Linked DNA regions of Homo sapiens: region 2 is linked to region 1. Evidence: fine-mapped expression QTL. Tissue or cell type: thyroid. Region 1 holds a variant in brackets; the other region holds the start of a gene. All regions are shown on one strand. Distances are between the middles of the regions.

Region 1 (8,147 bases):
AGGAAACAGTGCAGGTTTTGGATTAGAATGGGACTAGGTTTTAATTCTAGCTCTGCAGTGCAACCTTTGGACATATTACTTAACTTCTCTGAGTCTCCATTTCCTCATCTACAAGTATGGGGATAATAATAGCTACCTTGCCAGTACTGAGATTATACATGTCAGTGCTTAATGTAGCACCAAATCTGGCACATATTAGGTGCTCCATAGTATGGTGCGCCTGGCCCACCTAAGTCATTTCTAAGTCTGGTAATAAAGTTGCAGACCATATTATGATTGGGACACATCCTTTTCATTAAAACTACATTAAGAGTTAAGGCACTTGGCAGAGCGCAGTGGATCACGCCTGTAATCCCAGCACTTTGGGAGGCCAAGGCAGGCGGATTACCTGAGGTCAGGAGTTGGAGACCAGCCTGGCCAACATGGTGAAACCCCATCTCTACAAAAAAAATACAAAAATTAGCCAGGTTGGTGGGACACGCCTGTAATCCCAGCTACTCAGGAGGTTGAGGCAGGAGAATCCCTTGAAACCAGGAGGCGGAGGTTGCAGTGAGCCAAGATTGCGCCATTGCACTCCAGCCTGAGCGACAGAGCAAGACTCCATCTCAAAAAAAAAAAAAAGGCACTCCCCTCACAGCCATCCTCCCACATACATGTTAATGTGGTCATATGTATCAATACAATGATATATCATATGCATGCAAACATACAGACTTGCTTGCTTAAGCACACGCACATGACTATGGACAGTTAGACAGTCAAGAAAACATGTTAAGCCAGGCACAGTGGCTCACGCCTGTAATCCCAGCCCTTTGGGAGGCTGAGGAGGGAGGATCACTGGAGCTAGGAGTTTGGGGTTGCAGTGAGCTATGATGGCACCACTGCATTACAGCCTGGGCAACAGAGTGAGACCCTGTCTAAAAAAAAAAAAAAGCAAGCATGTTAATTAGGTGAGACAGAGTTTAACTCAGTGTTTGAGAGAATTGGTGAATAGCTGGAGAAACAGCGAAGATGGTGAGATGAAATAATAACAGCACACCCTTGTGTAGGGCTTACTATCGACCAGGCCTTGTTTGAAGTGCTTTATATATAATGGACACATTTAATCCTCACTACAGCCCTGTGACACAGGTACTCATGCTTTATAGATGAGGAAACTAAGGCCTAGAGTGGCCAAGTAACATGGTCAAACTCACAAAAGTAGGAAGTAAACAATGCTTTTTTTTTTTTTTGGAGACAGTTTCACTCTTGTTACCCAGGCTAGAATGCAATGGTGCGATCTCGCCTCACTGCAACTTCCGCCTCCCGGGCTCAAGCTATTCTCCTGCCTCAGCCTTCCTGAGTAGCTGGGATTACAGGCATGCGCCACCACGCCTGGCTAATTTTGTATTTTTAGCAGAGACAGAGTTTCTCCATGTTGGTCAGGCTGGTCTCGAACTCCCGACCTCAGGCGATCTGCCCACCTCAGCCTCCCAAAGTGCTGGGATTACAGGCGTGAGCCACTGCACCTGGCCAACATTGGTCTTAATCACTATGTGACACTAACTTTTCACAGGGGCTTCAGTTGTGGTGAAAAAAATGGAGAACAGTTGGTCACCATCCTGTGTAAATTACGCTTTCTCCTTGAAGTCCACTTTCAAATAATTCTGGTCTTTCTTCCATAGTTCACTGTCAACTTTAACACATCTGTTTGTGCAAAGGTCTGCCCTGATCTGGATCTCCTGAAGACCTCTACAGTCCATCCATGATCATGAGTACAGAATTGCCTGTTAGTCTAGTAGGGGCTTAACTTTTATGTCAGAAGGGCTTCTACACGTGATACTGGAGTCCAGACTCCTGTGCAAACCTGCATGCATTTCTATGAGACTTTTCACTGACCAGCCCCGACCTGCTTTGCCAGTCTCACCTCCTACTGCAACCACCCCACTCCCCATCCCATGCATTTTCTGCTCTAGTCACAGTGAACACATTCTACTCTCTCACGACTCTGAATCTTTGCACATGCATATGTCTTCCTCCCCGCTGCCCTGAATCCCACAGGCTACTAAGCACCTACTATGTGTTAAGCTTATGCAAGTGATTACCACACAATAGTTTCTTTCTTTTCCTCCCTCCCTTCCCCCCTTCCCCCTTCCCCCTCTTCCTTCCCCTTCCCCTTCCCCTTCTCCTTCCTTCCTTCCTTCCTTCCTTCCTTCCTTCCTTCCTTCCTTCCTTCCTCTCTTTCTTTCTTTCTTTCTTTCTGATGGAGTCTTGCTCTGTCAGCCAGGCTGGAGCACAATAGCATGATCTCAGTTCACTGCAACCTCCCCCTCCTGGGTTCAAGCAATTCTCCTGCTTCAGCCTCCCAAGTAGCTGGGATGACAGGCGAGTGCCACCAGGCCCAGCTGATTTTTCTATTTTTAATAGAGACAGGGTTTCGCCATGTTGGCCAGGCTGGTCTCCAATTCCTGGCCTCAAGAGATCCACCTGCCTAGGCCTCCCAAAGTGCTGGGATTACAGACGTGAGCCACCGCACCTGGCCTCTTTCTTTTTTTAAGACAGATTTTATGAGCTAATCTTTCTTTCCTTCCTCCCTCCCTCCCTCCCTCCCTCCTTCCTTCCTTCCTTCCTTTTTTTCAGAGTCTCACTCTGTCACCCAGGCTGGAGTACAGTGGCACGATCTCGGCTTACTGCAGCCTCTGCCTCCCAGGTTCAACTGATTCTCCTGCCTCAGCCTCCTGAGTAGGTGGGACTACAGGCGCCCACCACCACGCCTGCCTGATTTTTGTATTTTTAATAGAGACAGGGTTTTGCCATATTGACCAGGCTGGTCTTGAACTCCTGGCCTCAACAGATCCGCCTGCTTCAGCCTCCCAAAGTGCTGGGATTACAGGCGTGAGCCACTGTGCCTGGCCTGTGTGCTTTTCTTTTTTGTGTGTGTGTGGTGGTGGTGGTGGTGGTGGTATTTTTTAGAGATGGGGTCTCACTGTGTAGTCCAGGCTGGTCTCCAAGCAATCCTCCCACCTCATCTTCTTGAGCAGCTAGGATTACAAGTGTGAGTCACCGCACCTGGCACCATATAATGTGATAAGCGCTCTTATCACATACACCACAGTCATATTGTGGGAATTCAGAGTGGAGGTCTGAATTGGAGAGTCTCTCCAAGGGACTTGATCAGCGGGGAAAGAAGAGTTGATGGCTTCACAGAGGAAACGACGTTTGAGATGAGTTTTGAATGATTAGGAGCTTTCCAGTCAAAGGAGGGAAAGGAAACCTCAAATTACCTTTGGCTCTTCCACACCCCACAACTCAGACATGAAGTCCTGTTGTAGGTTCTACATCCAAAATGTCTCTCACACCTGTCTCCTCTTCATATTCCTCTGCCACTGTCCTAGTCCTACAGGCGCCACTTGGGCTATTGCAACAGCTCCATAACTGGTCTTTTTTTTTAGAGACAGGGTCTCACTATGTTGACCAGACTGGTCTCAAAGTCTTGGGTTCAAGGAATCCTTCCACCTCAGCCTCCCAAGTAGGTGGGACCACAGGTGTGCCACTGCACCTGGCAGTACCTGGTCAATCTGTCTCAGTCTTCAATCCCCAATCCAGTCTCCATGCAGCTGCTGGCTGACCTTCCAAACACACAAGTTTGAAGGTATCACCCCCGTCATACCTTTTTTTTTTTTTTGAGACAGAGTCGCTCTGTCACCCAGGCTGGAGTGCAGTGGCATGATCTCGGCTCATTGCAACCTCTGCCTCCCAGGTTCAAGCGATTCTTATGCCTCAGCCTCCCAAGTAGCTGAGATTACAGGCGTGCGCCACCACACGGGGCTAATTTTTGTATTTTTGGTAGAGACGGGGTTTCACCATGTTGGCCAGGCTGGTCTCAAACTCCTGACCTCAAGTGATCCACCTGCCTCGGCCTCCCAAAGTGCTGGGATTACAGGCGTGAGCCACCGTGCCTGGCTTTTTTTTTTTTTTTTTTTTTTTTTTGTGATGGAGTCTCACTCACTCTGTCACTCAGGCTGGAGTGCAGTGGCGCGATCTCGGCTCACTGCAACCTCCACCTCCCGGATTCAAGCAATTCTCCCACCTCAGCCTCCTGAGTAGCTGGGACTATGGGCATGTGCCACCACGCCTGGCTAATTTTTGTATTTTTAGTAGAGACAGTGTTTCACCATGTTGGCCAGGATGGTCTCGAACTCCTGGCTTCAAGTGATCTGCCTGCTTTGGCTTCCCAAATTGCTGGGATTACAGGCAACAGCCACTGTGCCCAGCCAATTCCTGTCATATCTGTAGGGTATTTTTTGTCTGTTTTATTTGCCCCTTGCTGGAATGTCCCAATCCATTTTCCATTTGACCCTGTACATTCTCCCTGGCCTACTCCAGGAATCAACAGGAGCTTAGCTTGGTACGATTGTGTAGCCCCTTCTGCACCATAGGCCAGGTCTGGCATTTAAGTACTTTGGAATCAGTAAATGGAGCAAGCATTCCCCTCTAGCCCCCACTGTGTGCACCCAGGCTATCTGATTGAACATCTGAACCAGTTTGTGGTTGCCATGCCAATTCTCTATGGATACCACAGCTTGCTTTCAAACCCCAACTCAGCTGGCTGGAGGCCTTGATTACTCTCCTAGTTCATCTGCCTCTGTTCCTTTGCCCCCCAGCTCCTGGCATCTCTGTGCATAGACACCTCTAAAAGATCATAGACATTCCTAAAAGGACCAGTTCCATGAGATACAGCATGCAAGAGCTTCCTGTTACTATGCCTTTTCTGCCCCCTGATCAGACCCCTTGAATATTGACCCTTAAATGAATCATGCTCAGGTTTGCAACCTCTCTTGGACTTTGCTGTTTGGACTGGTGTCCACTCCCTGGGGGAGCCAACACTATTATTG[C/A]CAAATTGTTTTAACTAGCTTCAGCCTACCTGAACCAGCCTCACTCCTTTCTGGCTCATTGAGAATTCTAGCATGTCGTAAGGCCATGGTCTCAGTGCTTATGATACTATCTTACCTTACTTTACCGTTAGTTCATAACCAGCTTTTGAACACATCTTGTCTGATTCTCAAAAAAGTTCTGTGAAAGAGGTAGAGAGGTTATTATTAACTCTCTATTGGAGATGAGGAAACAGACCTGGAGAGGGTAAATATCACGTGTCCAAGGGGACAGAGCTCATCAGTGGAGAACGAGGTCTCCTAATTCCAGTGTCCTCTTCATAACCCAGGTCACTCAGCACATTGAATTTCTACTGCGTGGCAGAGAGCATGCCTCATTTGCCTCTGTGTCTCTCTCTTATACTCTTGTGACAGAGCCTGATTTGAAAAGTCAGTCTTGGAGTCAGTCTAACTCTGCCTCCTACCTCCCTGAGACATTGTGTCCACCAGCTCCCCTCAAGGTTCCTTGGGCCTGTTCCTACCTGGTTCATGGGACCCAAGAATCCTGTGTCCCCCACTTGGGCTGTAACACCCAGCCTGATAGCTTTATTGTCCCACCACTGCCCCCTGGAGAGGAAAGCCTTGATATAGAGTTGGAGCCTCTTTCCAAGGGGGATTGGTAGAATCTTTGAAGAGAAACTACATTTCTGATGTGATGGTGGGGGTTAGCATTTCTCAATGTGGAGAGGGCATGAGGTTCCCTGCTTCCGACCAGGACCAGGATGGAATTTTAAAAAGAAAATCTTTCTCCTGATGGCATGTTGTATGGAGAGGGGATGTGTTTGTTGTATTGTTGTGGGTGAAAAGGATGGATTTCGATAAGAAAAGGAATCTCTCTCACCGTGAGGGGGTGGGGACCTCTCCTCTGATGGAACATAATGTCAGTTTCTAAGGGGAAAGGAAATTTCTTGTAGGAAAGGAATGTTCCTCTTTTAAGGGAGAGGAAGCTCTCTCTCAGGGATTACTAAGTGTGGTGGAAAGGAATACTTACTCTCTCCTTTCTTTCTTTCAATTTTTTAAAAATAGAGATGGGAGGCCGGGCGCGGTTGCTCACACCTGTAATCCCAGCTCTTTGGGAGGCCGAGGCGGGCAGATCACGAGGTCAGGAGATTGAGACCATCCTGGCTAACACAGTGAAACCCCGTCTCTACTAAAAATACAAAAAAAAATTAGCCGGGCGTGGTGGCGGGCGCCTATTGTCCCAGCTACTCGGGAGGCTGAGGCAGGAGAACAGCGTGAACCCGGGAGGTGGAGCTTGCAGTGAGCCGAGATCGCGCCACTGTACTCCAGCCTGGGTGACAGAGCGAGACTCCGTCTCAAAAAAAAAAAAAATAGAGATAGGATCTTGCTATGCTGTCCAGGCTAGTCTTGAACTCCTGGCCTCATGCAATCCTCTTGCTTCGGCCTCTAAAGGTCTCATTTCCTTCCCTCCCTCCCTCCCTCTCTCCCTCCCTCCCTTCCTTCCTTCCTTCCTTTTCTTTCTTTGTTTCTTTCTTGACAAGGTCTCACTCTCTGGCCCGGGCTGGAGTGCAGTGGCGTGATCACAGCTGACTGCAGCCTCAACCTCCTCCTGGGCTCGAGTTATCCTCCCACCTCAGCATCCGAAATAGCTTGGGACTACAGGCACATGCCACCACACCTGACTAATTGTTTTATTTTATTTTTTTTGTAGAGATGGGGTCTCTCTATGTTGCTCAGACTGGTCTCAAACTCATGGGCTCAAGTGATTCTCTCCCCTTGGCCTTCCAAAGTGCTGGGACTACAGGCATGAGCCACCACATCCAGTCTTCCTTTTTTTTTTTTCTAAAGGAGAAATCTCAAATAAAGAAAACTTCCATGCTTTCTCTCCAAAGAGGAAAAACTGTCTCAAGGGAGAACAATTCACATGAGATTGTGTCTGATTTTCTCTCCCTTTCTGATATCCAGCACTTCCTACATGGAGTCCACATACTCTGAGAGGGAGTGGCAAATAATTTCTCCTGTTCGGAGGTAAGGAAGCTGAGGAGGCAAACTTGCCATGGGGGAAACTTTTACTCTGAGAGGCTATTTGTGGGGGCAGTGACTCTAAGGAAACCCCTGTGAGGCTGGGGGAAGATAATGCACTGTTACTTGGGGAAATCTTTCAGGAATCCCAGAAGCACAGAGTGTTGAAGGGAGCTGAGAGATGTGCTGGGCCAGTTCTCGTTTGCTCATAAGGAAGCTGAGGTTCGGGGAAGGGAATGCCCCGCTACTAAGTGACAGCATCAGGACTCCAGCGCAGCTTTTCCAAGTCTCAGCCTGGGGCATTTCCTACCACAGCTGACAGGGGAGGGTGATGCTGGTGAGGAAACTGCTGCTATGAAATGTTTGACCTGTGTGGAGGCATCTCTGGAGTGGGAAGCATTGATTCCTGAGAGAAGGAAACTGGGAAAGAGGATGAAATTAGGGGCTCTGTCCAGCTGAAAGGGGTCAGGGTCATCGTGCAACCCAACAGGTGGACTGTGGGACATCAGCTTGTAGGGGATGCTGAGTTTGGAGGGAGTAAGGAGATAGGTCTCCAGATGTGCGGGGGAGGGGCTCTCACCGAGGTACCCAGGGAATTGTGCCACTCTCTGGGGCAGGAGAAATTTCCCAATCATTTCTTGTCTCTTCAGAGGGAGTTGTCATTTTTAATCTTTTCAAAATCAGAGGAAGGAGGTATGTAAACTAAATCCCAATAAAGCTGTTATTAGACAATGAAAAAGACAAGAACCACAACAACAAAAGCAACAGGGAGGAATGGCTCCGGGGCTGGCTCTGCGGCCCAGAAGTACAGTGATTTCCTCATTTGCAGCTTCAGCTACTCAAGTAACTACTTCTTTTGCCCTGTTCCTTTCTTAATCAGTAAAAAACCAAGGCCAGCTCATCCTGGGGGAGGTCAGAGGTTGCAGGAGAAAGAACTTGACAAACACACAAGCCACCTCTTCATTTACTGTAAAATCCTGTTTAATGTGTAACATTTCAGGCAGAGAGAGGCCTTGGGGACTAGAGGCAGAGGTGGCCTTGACCAACCCCTGCTCCAACTTATCTGCCTGCTTCTCTCTCCCTAACTCCCTCACCCCAGACACCTCCTCCTTTTCCTTGTGGCCAGCAAGCACTATTCCTCCTTTACTAGTGCTGGCCACCCTCCCTTCTCCACCCACATGTCCACAGCACCCCTGCCCTCTGCTCCTCTTACCCACATCCCTCCTCACTGATGTGACTCCAGAAACAGGGTAT
Region 2 (8,179 bases), 26 kb before region 1:
GCGCCACTGCACTCCAACCTGGGCAACAAGAGCGAGACTCCATCTCAAAAAAAAAAAAAAAGGAAATACAAAATGCAGAAAATTATTTTTATTTATATATATATATTTTTTGAGACAGGGTCTTGCTCTATCACCCAGGCTGGAGGGCAGTGGCACAATCCTGGCTCACTGCAACCTCCAGCCTTACCCTCCCGAGTAGCTGGGACCACATGCATGCACCACTGCCCTCAGATAATTTTTTGTATTTTTGGTAGAGACAGGGTTTCACCATGTTGCCCAGGCTTGTCTCGAACTCCTGAGCTGCCACCACGCCAGCTAATTTTTGTATTTTTTAGTAGAGACGGGTTTCACCACGTTGGTCAAGCTGGTCTTGAAGTCCTGACCTCAAATGATCCATCCGCCTCGGCCTCCCAAAGTGCGGCCTCCCACCGTGCCTGGCCAGCCCTTATTTTTAGGTGCTAACATTTTTTCATGATTATAAAAACAATATGTGCTCAGTAGAACAGTTTAGAAAATACAAGGCTGGGAGTGGTGGCTCACGCCTTTAGCAATCCCAGCACTTTGGGAGGCCGAGGTGGGTGGATCACTTGAGGTCAGGAGTTCGAGACCAACCATAGCCAACATGGTGGAACCCATCTGTACTAAAAAAAATACAAAAATTAGCTGGTGTGGTGGCACACGCCTGTAGTTCCAGCTACTCGGGAGGCTGAGGCATAAGGATCGCTTGAACCTGAGAAGCAGAGGTTGCAGTGAGCCGAGACCATGCCACTGCACTCCAGCCTGGGAGACAGAGTGAGACTCTGTCTCAAAAAAAAAAAAAAAAAGTTTAGTAAATACAAAATGCAGAAAATTATTTTTATTTATATATTTATTTATTTTTTTGAGACAGAGTCTTGCTCTATCGCCCAGGCTGGGGACAGTGGCACAATCTCGGCTTACTGCAACCTCCAGCCTTACCCTCTTGAGTAGCTGGGACCACAGGCGTGCACCACTACGCCTGGATAATTTTTTGTGCTTTTGGTAGAGATGGGGTTTCACCGTGTTGCCCAGTCTGGTCTCCAACTCCTGAGCTCAAGCAATCCACCCACCTCGACCTCCCAAAGTGCTGGGATCACAGGCGTGAGCCTCTGCGCTCGGCCTAAATTTTTTTAAATAAAAATTTTATTTACGGTCAGGCGCGGTGGCTCACGCCTGTGATCCCAGCACTTTGGGAGGCCGAGGCGGGTGGATCACGAGGTCAGGAGATTGAGACCATCCTGGCTAACACGGTGAAACCCCATCTCTACTAAAAATACAAAAAATTAGCCGGGCGTGGTGGCGGGCGCCTGTAGTCCCAGCTACTCGGGAGCCTGAGGCAGGAGAATGACGTGAACCCGGGAGGTGGAGCTTGCGGTGAGCTGAGATTGGGCCACTGCACTCCAGCCTGGGCGACAGAGCAAGACTCCGTCTCAAAAACAAAACAAAACAAAACAAAACATATATATATATATATTTGAGAGATGAAGTCTCGCTCTGTGGCCCAGGCTGGAGTGCAGTGGCTCAGTCTCAGCTTACCACAACCTCCGCCTCCCGGGTTCAAGCGATTCTCCTGACTCCCAAAGTGCTGGGATTACAGGAGTTACTGCACCAGGCCCACTTTATTTTTTAGAGCAGTTTTGGCATCACTGCAAAATTGAGCTGAAAGTATCAAGAGTCCTTTGTACCCCTCTCCACACACAGACACAGCCTCCCTATCAACATCCTGTCCAGAGTGGTAAATTTCTTGCAGTGATGAATATACAGTGACACATTATCAACCAAAGGCCATAGTTTACATAAGGGCTTCCTTTTGGTGTTGTACATTCTATGGGTTTTAATTTTTTTAAATAAAGATTTTATTTTTTAAGAGCAATTTTAGTTTCACAGCAAAACTGACAGGTAGGTCCGGAGAGTCCCATATACCTCCTTCCCCCATGCAGTCACGGCTCCCCTGACTACCAACATCCCTATCAGAGTGGTAAATTTGTTAAAATCGATGAACCTACATTAACACATCATTACTAACCAAAGCCTGCGGTTTACATTAGAGTTAGTTCACCCTTGGTGTTTACATTCTGTATCTTTGAACAAATGTATACTTACAAGTATCCACTATTACAGTATCATGAGAGTATTTTCGCTACCGTAAAAATCCTCTGTGCTGTCTGCCATTAGTTGTTTTTTGTTTTTGTTTTTTTAATGTGGGGTTTTGTTTTGTTTGGTTTGAGACAGAGCCCTCGTCTGTCGCCCCGGGCTGGAGTGCAGTGGCGCCATCTGAGCTCGCTGCAATTTCTGCCTCCCAGCTCAAGTGATCCTCACACCTCCGCCTCCTGAGTAGCTGGGACTACAGGTGCACACCAGCACACCTTGCTAATTTTTTGTATTTTTTGTAGAGAAGGGGTTTCACCATGTTGCTCAGGCTGGTTTGGAACTCCCGGGCTCAAAGGATCCAACCGTCTTGGCATCCCAAAGTGCCAGGATTACAGGCGTGAGTCACTGCGCCAGACTTAAAATGTGGTTGTTAATGACTACGTCTGTTGCATAACCAAAATCCCCTATTATTGGGCATTTAGATTGTTTCCTTATCTGTTTTAAAGAGGAGAAAACTAAGGCCCTTCACTTGACAAGTCACTTGTCCAAAGTCACCTGGCTAAAAAGTAGGCAGAACTGATATTAGAAATCTGGTCTGACTCCAGAACCCATTCTTAGGCCACCACACTGCGTCTAGAATTAATAACACACCACTTAACCCCGTTAGATCAGCTCCCCTCAACTTGAAAGATAGTGACCAGGCACCTCCACAAGCAGAGCAGCCAAGGATTCAAGTATATGTTGAGGAAGGCAGGCAATACAGAAAAAACTAGGTGGCTCAACTGAGATGGAACAAGCAGAAAATGCAAAGGGGAGGTCCAGGAATAGAAATAAACAGGAGGTAGGAGATGGGTACACAGAATGCTGGTTAAGACAAAGAGAAAGCTGGATTTGGGAAATCTAAAAGTAAGAAACTCTGGCTTTTATCTCTGTATGTAGGAGGGAGCAAAGATAACCTCAAGGCCATGTGGGGAGCTAGCAAGGATAAGGTTTCTGGGAAAAGGAATGAGAAAAGGGAGGGTAAACTCCCGAGGACTACAAGAGCAGGAGAGGCTTTGTGTGGCCAGGAGGAGAGGCCAGAAGTCAACGAGGCAGGCTAGAATAGGCACTGGATACCAAACCTTCCTGTTCCTAAGGAGACTTCCTTCCAGCCTGAGCCTCCTCTAGTAGTTCGGCTACTAAATGCTCTCAGCCCTTAGGGGCTGTGGTGGGAAGTGGGGAGCGGGGATTGTAAAGTGCTCTAACTATTAATATAATGCGGACTGAGAATGGATGCTGGCACAATTTTTTAAAGGCAGTAGGCTTAACGCTAGTGCCACCTACCCCTACTCCACTTCTCTAGCCTAACCTCAGCCACACCCACATGCTAAGGACCATCCAGGAGGGGGGAGCGTGTAGCGCGCCTGCGTGCTCGTGCGCACGAGAAGCAGAGAGGCAGAGAAGGAGACAAAAAGAGATAGGGGGAGAGAGAGAGAGAGAGCGAGAAGAGAGAGACAGACAAGGACAGAAAGGGGGCTGGAGGAGAAAGAGAGAGAGAGATACAGAGAGAGAGAGAGAGAGAGAGAGAGAGAGAGAGAGAGAGAGAGAGAGAGAGAGAGAGAGAGAGATCAGCCCTGGTGAGGGAGGAAAACTCCATAGATAATACAGGGAGCTCCTGCAGGAAGACTCAGGGAGAAGATCCCAGAACTTACCCTAAGACTGTTGAGAGAGTAGGGGGTAGCTTTGCAGGACCTGGTTTGGGGGTCATCAAGCAGTAACGGTTACTGCACAGGCGTTGCCACTGAGCCAGAGCCATTTAACCCGACCTGTGTGGCTGGGGATCAAGCTTCAGATACCCCATAACTCTGACTCTCAGACTGTTTTGGGGGCCCCGTGGCTGCAGACAAGGGAAGGAGGGGCACGTGAGGGCTGGGTCCCTGCCTCCCCCCGTCCTCCGCTGTCACTCACTACCCCAACAGTCGCCCAGGGGGCGGGACCCGGAGAGGTGGGGATGGGGGAGGGTAATCTTGGCAGGCGCCTGCTGCATGGCGTAGGTAGGGACTATTGAGGGGGGCGGACGCCGAGGGGGTGAACACGAGTGGGAAGCTAAGAGAGACACGGGGAGGGGGAGGGGACCGGGAACCATTTGAATGAGAGGAGGGGATCACGGGTAGAGTGGGCTCCAGGAGGTAGGGCGAGCAGGGTGTGACGGGGGCCAGACTCTTGAGCCAGGTAAGGGGAGCAGGTGCGTAGATCTGTGTTTTTTGTGGGTGAGCGCACTCGGCCCTTGGGTGGAAAGGGGACGCCGCCTTTCCCGGGGGGCCGGCTTCAAAGCTCCAGAGGCTATCTTTTCCTTCTCAACTAACGGGGCCCCGGGCGGGGGCTCAGGCGCCGTCTCTAGTGGCTGCATTCCACTCCGCAATTTCCAGGCGGCCACTGGACTGGGAGTCTCGCGCCGGGGGCCGGCGCTGTCTCGCGAGCCCCCTCCTCGAGCCAGCCAATGGGGTTGGTTGCTGGCACCGCCCGCCCGCCTGGTGCAGAGCGCTGGGCGCTGCGAGCGGCGCTGCCATTTAAAGGGGCCGCGACCCCTGTCCCGGCTGCTAGGGAGGGAGGTAGAGAAGGAGCGCGGGGCCGTCGCTGTCTGCAGTTCTAGGCTTGTAGCCTTTGCACTAACCCTGCCGCAGGTAGGGGTCGGGCCTGCTCAAGCCGAACCGAACCTGCAAGCGGGATCTTGCAGTAGCCGGGAGGCGGTGGTGGGGGGGTCTAAGGAGAGATCGTAGCTCCAAAATGTCTTCCTGTAAATGCCTGAGGTTGGGGGTGGGCAACAGGAGAAGGGAGGACTGGAGGAGCAATGGGAAAGGGGGACGGGGCTGAGGAAGTGGGCGACCTGAAAGGTAACTGGGGGGAAGGGGTTGCGAAGGGCAGTTTGTGGGGGCGGGGGAAGGGCCGAGGGAGGACCTAGCAACGCGGGGAGGGGGGGTGGGGCCAGACAGGGTGGGTAAAGACTGGGGAGCTGGGGGGCTCCTGCAGAGTGGGGAGGGAATAGAAACTGAGATCGCGGGGGCGGGAAAGGCTCCTGGTGGCGACGGCCTTAGGAGACTCTAAGGGGGCGTTCAGCCTGAGTTGCGGGGGGTAAAAGGTAAGGGGGGAAGGGAATGGGAGTTGCAGTCGAGTAGGGGGGTGGGCGGGTAGAACGACCGACTGCCTGGCCAGTGTGGGCACGGGGCCAGGGCGGGGAACGCCTCTCCCCACTGGGGGCGCTGTATTGGGGGGAGTGGTCATTAGGACTAAAGCCTTCGGAAATGCTTGTAGATTGTGGTGGTGGGGGCTGCTCATGAGAAATCCAAGTGGATGATGGGGTGTGTCTCAGAGCCTATATAAGAAGGAATTCAGGCTAAGACCACCTCTACTGCCCCCTCTTCTACTCCTAATCTGCAGTACATATCCAGCCATACTCATGGACCCCAGTGATTTCCCCAGTCCATTTGACCCATTGACCCTGCCAGAGAAGCCCCTGGCTGGAGACCTACCAGTAGACATGGAATTTGGAGAGGATCTACTGGAATCCCAGACTGCCCCAACTCGAGGATGGGCCCCCCCTGGCCCTTCTCCATCCTCGGGAGCCCTGGACCTGCTTGATACCCCTGCTGGCCTGGAAAAAGACCCTGGAGTCCTGGATGGAGCCACTGAGTTGCTGGGGCTGGGGGGGCTGCTCTATAAAGCCCCCTCTCCCCCGGAGGTGGACCACGGTCCTGAGGGAACCCTGGCATGGGATGCAGGAGATCAGACCCTAGAGCCTGGACCAGGGGGCCAGACCCCTGAGGTGGTACCACCTGATCCAGGGGCTGGGGCAAATTCCTGTTCACCTGAGGGGCTACTAGAGCCTTTGGCTCCAGATTCTCCAATAACACTGCAGTCCCCACATATTGAAGAGGAGGAGACCACCTCCATAGCTACTGCAAGAAGGGGCTCCCCTGGGCAGGAGGAGGAGCTTCCCCAAGGGCAGCCACAGAGCCCAAATGCCCCGCCTAGCCCTTCAGTGGGAGAGACTCTGGGGGATGGAATCAACAGTTCTCAGACCAAACCTGGGGGCTCTAGCCCCCCTGCACATCCTTCCTTGCCAGGTAGGTTGCCTAATTATCTGGAGAATCAGGGCTGGGAGAGGGTGGTGGTAAGGAGGGGTGGCTATGTGCTTTGGGAAGTAGTGGGGAGGAGGAGGGTGGAGAGATAAGTGTAGGGATGTGTGTGGGGAAGGACTTGGGGTTTACGAGGGAGGAGTGGGGTGGTGTGTAGAGGAAGATTAAGGAAAGTAGGGGTGGGCACAGGCTGTGGGGGAGGAATGGGGTAAGGTTTCAGGGAGCGTAGGTTGGGAGGAGTGAATTTGGTGGGAAGGGTTCCCTTTTTCCTACCCCAGTGGGCTTTTGGTGCCAGAGTCCTTCCTTCAGGATTTGGGGGAGTACACCAGGCTTCTTGGTTCTAAGACCTTTACAGCTTTTTGGTTCTAGATGGGAGTGGGATTTCTGGGTTTGATGAATGGTAACTAGGTTCTGGAGCCCCTAACAGCATAAGGATTTCAGCAGAGCGATAGAAATGCAGGGTCTAGGATTGCGTCTCTGATAGGGGAGGGACAACCTTGACTTGAGAGGCTCTAGTGTCTCCCCTCTTCTGCCTAGTGGTGTGCCTCTATCAGGCTGTGACGAGGGTCTTAGGGCTTATATAACCACCTGAATCCAGGGGAAGCTACCCATACACTGATGCTTCCTTTTCCTTTTGCTACCTTTGGGTGGTTGTGTGTGTTTTTCATTGGTAAAATATAAATTCTTAATGAAAGGTATATTACCTGTGTTTCCTTAACCCCCAAGGATTGGGACAGAAAGCTGGTGGGAAGGATAGATTTTTTTTTTTTCATGGAATAGCTGCACGTGCACCCCCCCACCCTTAGTACAGAGCCTGAGGTAACCCTGAGAGGGGCCCCAAGAAGCCACAGGCACTCGAGTTTTCCCTTTCAGTTTTGAGTAAGTTCTTCCCCAGGAATGGAGGCGGGGGTTGGGCCGGGGAGAGGGTGGTGAGGGCAGGCTCAACATTTAGGCTGCCTTCTGCTTCCTTTGCAGGAGATGGCCTGACTGCGAAGGCGAGTGAGAAGCCGCCTGAACGGGTGAGGGGGAGGGGATTGGAAGGAGTCTGGTTCCCCCTTAGCTCTGGGAAGGACAGACCCTTCATTTTCCCTCCCAGATGTTGTTCTGTAGAGAGTGTGTGTAAGGAGAGTTAGGAGGAGGGAGGGAGCACTAGTGTCTACTGCTTGTTGGGGAGAAAGTCCAACCTCCTTTTCTTCCCTCCTCCTAAGGGCTGGGCCAAGGGTCCCCACTCTCCCTTCCCCCTCCCATCTTCTATCCCCCCCCAAACCCTGTACTAGTGTTAGCCTGGCCAGGGTGTCAGTTTTCCTCCCCTCCCATCTTTCCGAGGTACAGAAGAGAAGCGAGCGCGTTAGGAGAGCAGAACCTCCAAAACCTGAGGTTGTAGATTCCACTGAGAGCAGTAAGTAGGATTTGAGGAAGTGTGACCTGGGAGTTCTGGGTGTGGAAAAGGTCCGAAAGTGGCATGCGGCAGGGCATGGATCTTCTAGCTCCTGCCGTCCTGCTCCATGAAGCGCATGAAGTGCCTGTCTCTGCTATGGGTTGGCATGGGAACCAGGGGCAGTGGGGGAAATTGAAAACAAGAGCAGTGAGAATGGCGAGTTTCCTGTTTCAGCTATGCCATCTCTGTCTCCGAATCTTCTCATTTAGAGCCTCTCCCTTTCCCTCCCTGGGAGGTTACAGAGTAACCAAGGGAGAGAGACACCAAGGTCTTAAGATACTGATGTAACAAGGGCCAGGGTGTAAAGGCCGGAACAACAGGGATCCCAGGAGAGGGACTGAACTGTTGGTCAGGGGATGGTTGGAGACCTGGTTTGGTGGCCTTTCTCATGTCCATCCCCCCACTTTCTCAGTTCCAGTGTCAGATGAGGATTCTGATGCCATGGTAGATGACCCCAATGATGAGGACTTTGTGCCATTCCGGCCCCGGCGCTCTCCTCGCATGTCCCTACGCTCAA

Direction of the effects. Positions count from the first base shown, and alleles are read on the strand shown. Sizes are in standard deviations (SD) of each study's normalised expression.
In carriers of allele C in region 1, the expression in thyroid of the gene that starts at base 4,661 in region 2 tends to be lower than with A alone (small effect, 0.17 SD a copy in GTEx).

Evidence for each region. PIP is the estimated chance that this variant, and not a neighbour inherited with it, causes the effect.
Region 2: ZMYM3 starts here. The variant in region 1 is fine-mapped to the expression of ZMYM3 in thyroid (GTEx, PIP above 0.99).

What each region holds. Positions count from the first base shown.
Region 1 is chrX:71,224,908-71,233,054 of GRCh38, reverse strand. It overlaps GJB1 (gap junction protein beta 1), which reads right to left. Exons shown (of 2, transcript NM_000166.6): 2 at 7,539-8,147. Among named protein-coding and RNA genes, the nearest start is that of GJB1, 5.8 kb to the right of the region's middle. The variant C/A (reference allele first, on the strand shown) is at 4,875.
Region 2 is chrX:71,250,622-71,258,800 of GRCh38, reverse strand. ZMYM3 (zinc finger MYM-type containing 3) reads left to right here and starts at 4,661. Exons shown (of 25, transcript NM_201599.3): 1 at 4,661-4,772; 2 at 5,527-6,212; 3 at 7,200-7,243; 4 at 7,557-7,623; 5 at 8,075-8,179. The coding sequence starts at 5,546. LOC105373247 (a long non-coding RNA gene) reads right to left here and starts at 3,993. Exons shown (of 4, transcript XR_938434.2): 1 at 3,801-3,993. RefSeq lists silencers at 4,046-4,095, 4,116-4,165.